2 separate regions of the Homo sapiens genome follow, and region 1 is linked to region 2. The links come from fine-mapping of genetic effects on gene expression. A gene starts in region 2. The other region holds a variant in brackets. All regions are shown on one strand. Distances are from middle to middle.

Region 1 (2,914 bases), 31 kb before region 2:
AAATCATTTAACATTTGACAGGGTATAGAAGGTATGAAGAGTCATGTGTGTGGGTAAAATCACCTAGGCCGTGAGTGTAGATGCATAAGAGAAACAGGTCCAGAACCCAGATCAGTGCACTCCAGTGTTTACACACCAGCATGATGAGGAAGAAGTAAGAATGCAGATGAGAAAGAGTGGGCAATGTCGAAAGAGGAAAACCACAAGAGCGTTGTCTTGAAGTCAAAATGAAGAAAGTATTTCAAAAAAAGACAGAGTGACCAAAGGTATCAAATGCTGTTAATGGCTTAAGTAAGATAAAGATGAAAAGTTCACTACTGGGTTTAGCAACATGAAGGTCCTTGGTGAACTGACAACAGTTTTGTTCCAGTGGAAGACTCAGAACTCACTGAAACGAAGACTTGAATCCATAAGTTTGGAGAAAGCTTTCAAGAAATTTTAACTGCCAAGAGAATAGAAAAATAGGATTGAAGCTGGAGGGGGCTATGAGGTCAAGAGAAGTTATGTTTTGATTTTCGACATTGGGAAAAATTATATCATGTTGGTATGCCAGAGGGCATAATTGAGAGGGGATCATTGATGTGTCAGGAAAGTGAGAGTTGGGCCGGGTGTGGAGGCTCACACCTGTGATCCCAGCACTTTGGGAGGCCAAGGTGGGAGGATCATTTGAGCTCAGGAGTTCAAGACCAGCCTGGGCAACACAGAGAGACCCCATCTCTAATTTAAAGGAAAAAAAAGAAAGTGAGAGTACAGAATCCTGTGCTCCAATGGAGAGCCAGCCTTAGATAGAATTGTAGGCAGCTCATTCATAGCAACTGTCAAATCCACACCATCATTTTTTGTCAGTTCCTTCAGTCTGCAGATGATATTAAAGAAACCTATTCAATAAGTTAAGCAATTCAGGAATATGGAGACAGGGGATACAGACTATGCCACTAATTCATTGCCATACCCCAGGCGATCTTATGGAAGAGGCACTAAGGGGCTGAGATGGAGGGATGGAGGGAACAGGACTGGCCATGGGGTGGACTCCAAAGACATGATGCATGCAGAAGTTCCTGGCTTCCTCCTGGGCTAGGGTGAGGAGTGTGGCCAATATGCAAGTGTCAGGATGGTGGTGGTCACGGTGGGGAGGTATGTCTGCGAATGGTGGGACACACAGACCTCATTTG[A/G]GAAAACGGATAGCAGCTTCCCGAGGAAAGTCTGGAATCTGCCTGTGCACTCTGCTGTGGCCTCTTCGACTCAGGAATGAAGCCCATCAGAGCTTGGTCCCAGGCCTGGTTGTCACCTTGCTCCCATCAGGATTGCACTTGGTTGCCATCTTGCTCCACCCCTGGCCAGATAAAATTAATCTGAGACAGGATTTGGCTCACAGAGCAGGGTTGCCCCCACTCTGTCTCTGACCTAGTGGCTTTCAAACTCGTTTTCACCAATTTTACATCGTAATTTGGTGCACATACATATATGATATATAGACTTACATAGTATTGAAACAAAACTTTAATGAAACATTTGGTCATTTAATCACTTGTGATGCGCTCTGGTATTTTCCATTTTTTTTAATGCTAGTTACAACCAACGAAACTGATTTCATGACTTCTAACCTGTAGTTGGGAAAATACCACTGTAACCACATAGATGACTTTGCTCTCGTCTGTCTCGTTCTTTCAGGGTGATGAGCAGCATAAAGATTCCAAGAAGCCTCAAACTGAGTTGATTATCTCGGTGTATCTATCTGTTCCCATAGATTAGCAAATGTGAACTTTAGAGCACATTTATGTAAATGTACTGTTGGTTTCCCTTGACCTGACCTCAAACCTGACTGACTTTTCTGCACACTGAGAGCTACAGTGCTGAGCTCACCACTTCATTCCTTTGTTCTCTCCTTATCTCATCCACTGCACCTCACATTCCATCTTTCCCCACTCAGTCCCCCTGGGAGCCCTTGAAGTTAAACTATTTGAATCATAGACTATCACAGGTGAAAGAGACTTAAGAAGTGTTTGATACAGTTATCCCTTTGGTGTAGTTCAATGATCTCCAGTCTCTGCTTGCATTTCTCCAGTGACAGAGGGCTCACTACTTAGCAAGGTAGTTTCTTTCCTTTCTTTCTTCTTTCTTTCTCTCTCTTTCTTTCTTTTCCTTCCTTCCTTCCTTCCTTCCTTCCTTCCTTCCTTCCTTCCTTCCTTCCTTCCTTCCTTCCTTCCCTCCCTCCCTCTCTCCCTCCCTCCCTCCCTTCCTCTCTCTCTCTCTCTGTCTCTCTCTTTCTTTCTTTCCTTTTGGCCAGATACAGGGCCTTGCTTTGTTGCCCAGGCTGATCTGGAACTCCTAGACTCCAGCAATCCTCCTGTCTCTGCCTGCCAAAGTGCTGGGGTGGCAGGCGTGACCCACGGCACCCAGCCTCATATTTTCAAAATATGCCAGAAAGCTGCATTTTAAAATATAAAATCATCCCATTAAAAAATGCCAACTAATTCAAAATCTTTTTTAAATTTTTCATGAGCTGACAGCCCAGGCTCACTGAAGACACCATGACACTCACATCTGCCTTCAGAGCCCAGTTCTGCGCCCGTAGTGCTGGGAGACTGAGTCTGGGCGGAGCCTGGTAACTTACCCACCCAGCTTTTACCCAGGTCTCTCCAGACGTTCTCAAGTCATTGCTGTAGCCAGGGCCAAATTCAAGAAAACAACCACATTTTCTGAAGAGCCAGAGGGAGCTGGCCTGAGTCTTGCACTAGTGGGTTTTTGTTTGTTTGTTTGTTTTTGGTAAGTGGAGAAAGCAAATGAACCTGGAATACTGTGTCAAAGAAGGCTTTGGATGGAATCCGATCCCCTACCCCGGCCAGGGTACTTACCTACTTGCTTCAGTCTTTCCTTAGCTTCTAGCTTCCTGAGTAACTTCCAACTTTCCTTC
Region 2 (2,914 bases):
CAGCCTCCCAAGTACCTGGGACTACAGGTGCATGCCACCATGCCTGGCTAATTTATTTTTATTTTTTGTAGAGATGGAGTTGCCCAGGCTGGTTTTCAAACTCCTGGGTTCAAATAATCCTCCTTCTTTAGCCTTCCAAAGTGCTGGGATCACAGGTGTGAGCCACTGTGTCTGGCTGTGATTTTTAAATATGAGAAAAGTGGGTCAGCCAGGAGATCAGAATCTGAGGTTGGGTCATGGGAACCAGCCCTAGAGTCTTAGCTAGACCTCAGAAGTCAGGATCCCAGCCTCACACCCACAAGCATGGCCAGAAAGCAAGGATAATTTAAATATATTTGTTCCTATCAACCAAGGCAATTGTTTCTTGATATTTGTGTAAAAAATTTAAATTCTACTCTCAAGGGTATTTGTCACTCAGGCTTTAAATGCCAGCTTTGTCTGCCCAGTTTAGACCCAGCCTGCATTCCTGACTTAGTTTACCCAAAGGAAACGGCTGATTTTGTCAAACTTGGTTCCCCCTCTCTGGCTTGTATCTCTGAATTCAACATGCAGACAACAAATCTATGGTGTGCACATCCACCCAACACAACTGGCCACCCATGGGTTTGGAGATGGGGGGAACAGAACAAACCTCTCTGTGTCATGCAAACCAGGGAACCTAGCAGAGCTTCTGAGACACGGTGGGAACACGTTTCACATTTGGAGGTAGGTTTATGGTTTACATTTGTTACAAGGTACTTTTGATCTCCTGGCTTACAACTGAGAAAGCTGAGGCCACGTTAAGGGATACACCCAAGTTCCCACAGCTGTGGTTGATTTGGAATTCCGACCAGCACCTGGGATTCCCAGGCCCACGTTCTTCCCAGCAGACCCGAACACCGGCAATTTCTGGGCACCCACCATCATGGAAGGCTGTATGGAGGCAGCTATGCGGCCCTGGTCTGTCAGTGTCTATGACTAGAACATGCTACCCATCATTGACTCATCTGCCTTAAGAACTCTTCCGCCTAAGTGTTAATATTTATCATTTACAGCCCGCCACTACCCCCTTTCAAAGGTGAACACAGTAAAATTTATGACAGGTGCTCTATCAGAACACAGAGGAACATAAAAGCAGGAGGAGGTGTGATAGCCCATCCATCTGCTGGAGCAGCTCTTCCAGAGGCCCGAGTCACCTGGAGCATTCTGGCATGGGGCTGCGGCCAGGCATTTTCCTCCTGGAGCTGCTGCTGCTTCTGGGGCAAGGTAAGCGTGCCTTTTGCTCAGAGGACAACCAGTGGTTTAGCCCCGCTGGTGTCCCATGTTGCTTAGGCAATGGGTGTGTGAGAGGAGTGTGTGCTTTTGAAGAGATAAAGCACAAAGCGTACAGTTCAAGAATAAGAAGTCTGGTTTGCCTCCTGCGGAATGGGATGCAGAGGCTGCCTACACAGGGTTACATGTCCCAAAGGCTGCCGGGAGCGAGGCAGATCTTGGGACAGGAGAGAAGTGCAGTCCGGTAGCAGTACCATGGTACAAAAAAAACCCCTGGATTCTATTTGTTTGTGCTTTGTGGCTTTGGGCAAGTTCTTCCACCTCCCTGGACCTTGATTTTTTTCATCCTTAAAATGGAAATACTACTACTATGCACATTTTGATCATTACTATTACCATTTATGAGCTTTGTTTTGTTTTTGAAGGACAAAGGAAGACAGATTTCCAGATGATAAATTCTAAAAGATTGCCTACATTCTTTAGTGCTGCTAAACAGAGTGCTGAGCTTTCATTGAACTGAGTGGGCAACCAGCCAGGGCTTTCCATTCCCCCCAACATTAATGACTGTGGGTAGATTGTGCCTCTGCCACAATCCCTCTCTGCCCCTCTTCTTCCCATCATTGGCTCTCCCTTTGCTTAGGAAGGCAGAATCTTTTAAACTGAAAAGGGCCTTAAAGATCTTTCATCTTCTCCAGATGAGAGGACGGGGTCTGGAGTGAGAAGGCACTTGCCCTTGACTCCCCAGAGAGAGTGGAGGAGGCATGGGACAGAGTCCTGGGCCTGCCTAGGGTCTGAGCCCATGCTTGAGGCTTCTCTGGGGCAAGTCAGTTACCGCTCTGAGCCGTGGGGGAGAATGACGATGCTTGCTATGCCTTCTGCACAGGATGATTGTATTTCTTTGATTACTGATGAGGCCAAGGAGTGTTTTCATAGAGATTGTTTGAGTTTCTCTTTTGTGAAGTGCCTGTTGAAGTCTTTTTCCTATTGATTTTTTAGGAGTTCTCCATATATGCTGTGTACTAGCTCTTTGGAGGTTACATATATGACAAATATCTTGTTCCACTCTGAAGCTTGTCCTCCTATGGGGACTTTTGATGAGCAAAATTCTTAATTTTGTGTAAATAAATGTAGACTACCCAAATGAGGACAAACAGAGGCTACTTATTCAGAGCTCGCTGTAGCGAGACATCACTTATGTTTGGCCAAGATTCAAAGGCAGGCAGGGGAGTGGGAAAGTTTCACAGTGGAAAAAAGGGAAATCTTCAGATCTGCTCTGGTTGGAGGTTGTTGGTATCAGGGACCAGCTGACTAGAGGCACGGCATCTGAAGTTATCCAGTTGGGAGTGTATCTGGCTTTCTCTGAGGGGTCCTGAGTTGGAAGCAGAGCAAAAAATAGAGAAGATGGCAGTCATTAACCAAACCTGACCATTCTGGGCTGATTGCTGCAGAGGCTGCAGTTTGGTTCTCTGGCCTGGCCGATTGCAGACTGTGGCTCAGAGTTCTGTTATCATATGTGGTCCCACCGTTGTCCATTTGTATATTCTCTATTTTTTTTTTTTTTGAGACAGAGTCTGGCTGTGTCACCCAGGCTGGAGTGCAGTGGCTTGGTCTCAGCTTACCGCAACCTCTGCCCTCCAGGTTCAAGCAATTCCCCTGCCTCAGC

The links.
Region 1: its variant is fine-mapped to the expression of PLB1 in whole blood (TOPMed, PIP above 0.99).

The regions. Positions count from the first base shown.
Region 1 is chr2:28,463,912-28,466,825 of GRCh38, forward strand. No RefSeq gene overlaps it. Among named protein-coding and RNA genes, the nearest start is that of PLB1, 31 kb to the right of the region's middle. The variant A/G (reference allele first, on the strand shown) is at 1,173.
Region 2 is chr2:28,494,925-28,497,838 of GRCh38, forward strand. PLB1 (phospholipase B1) reads left to right here and starts at 1,136. Exons shown (of 58, transcript NM_153021.5): 1 at 1,136-1,245. The coding sequence starts at 1,191.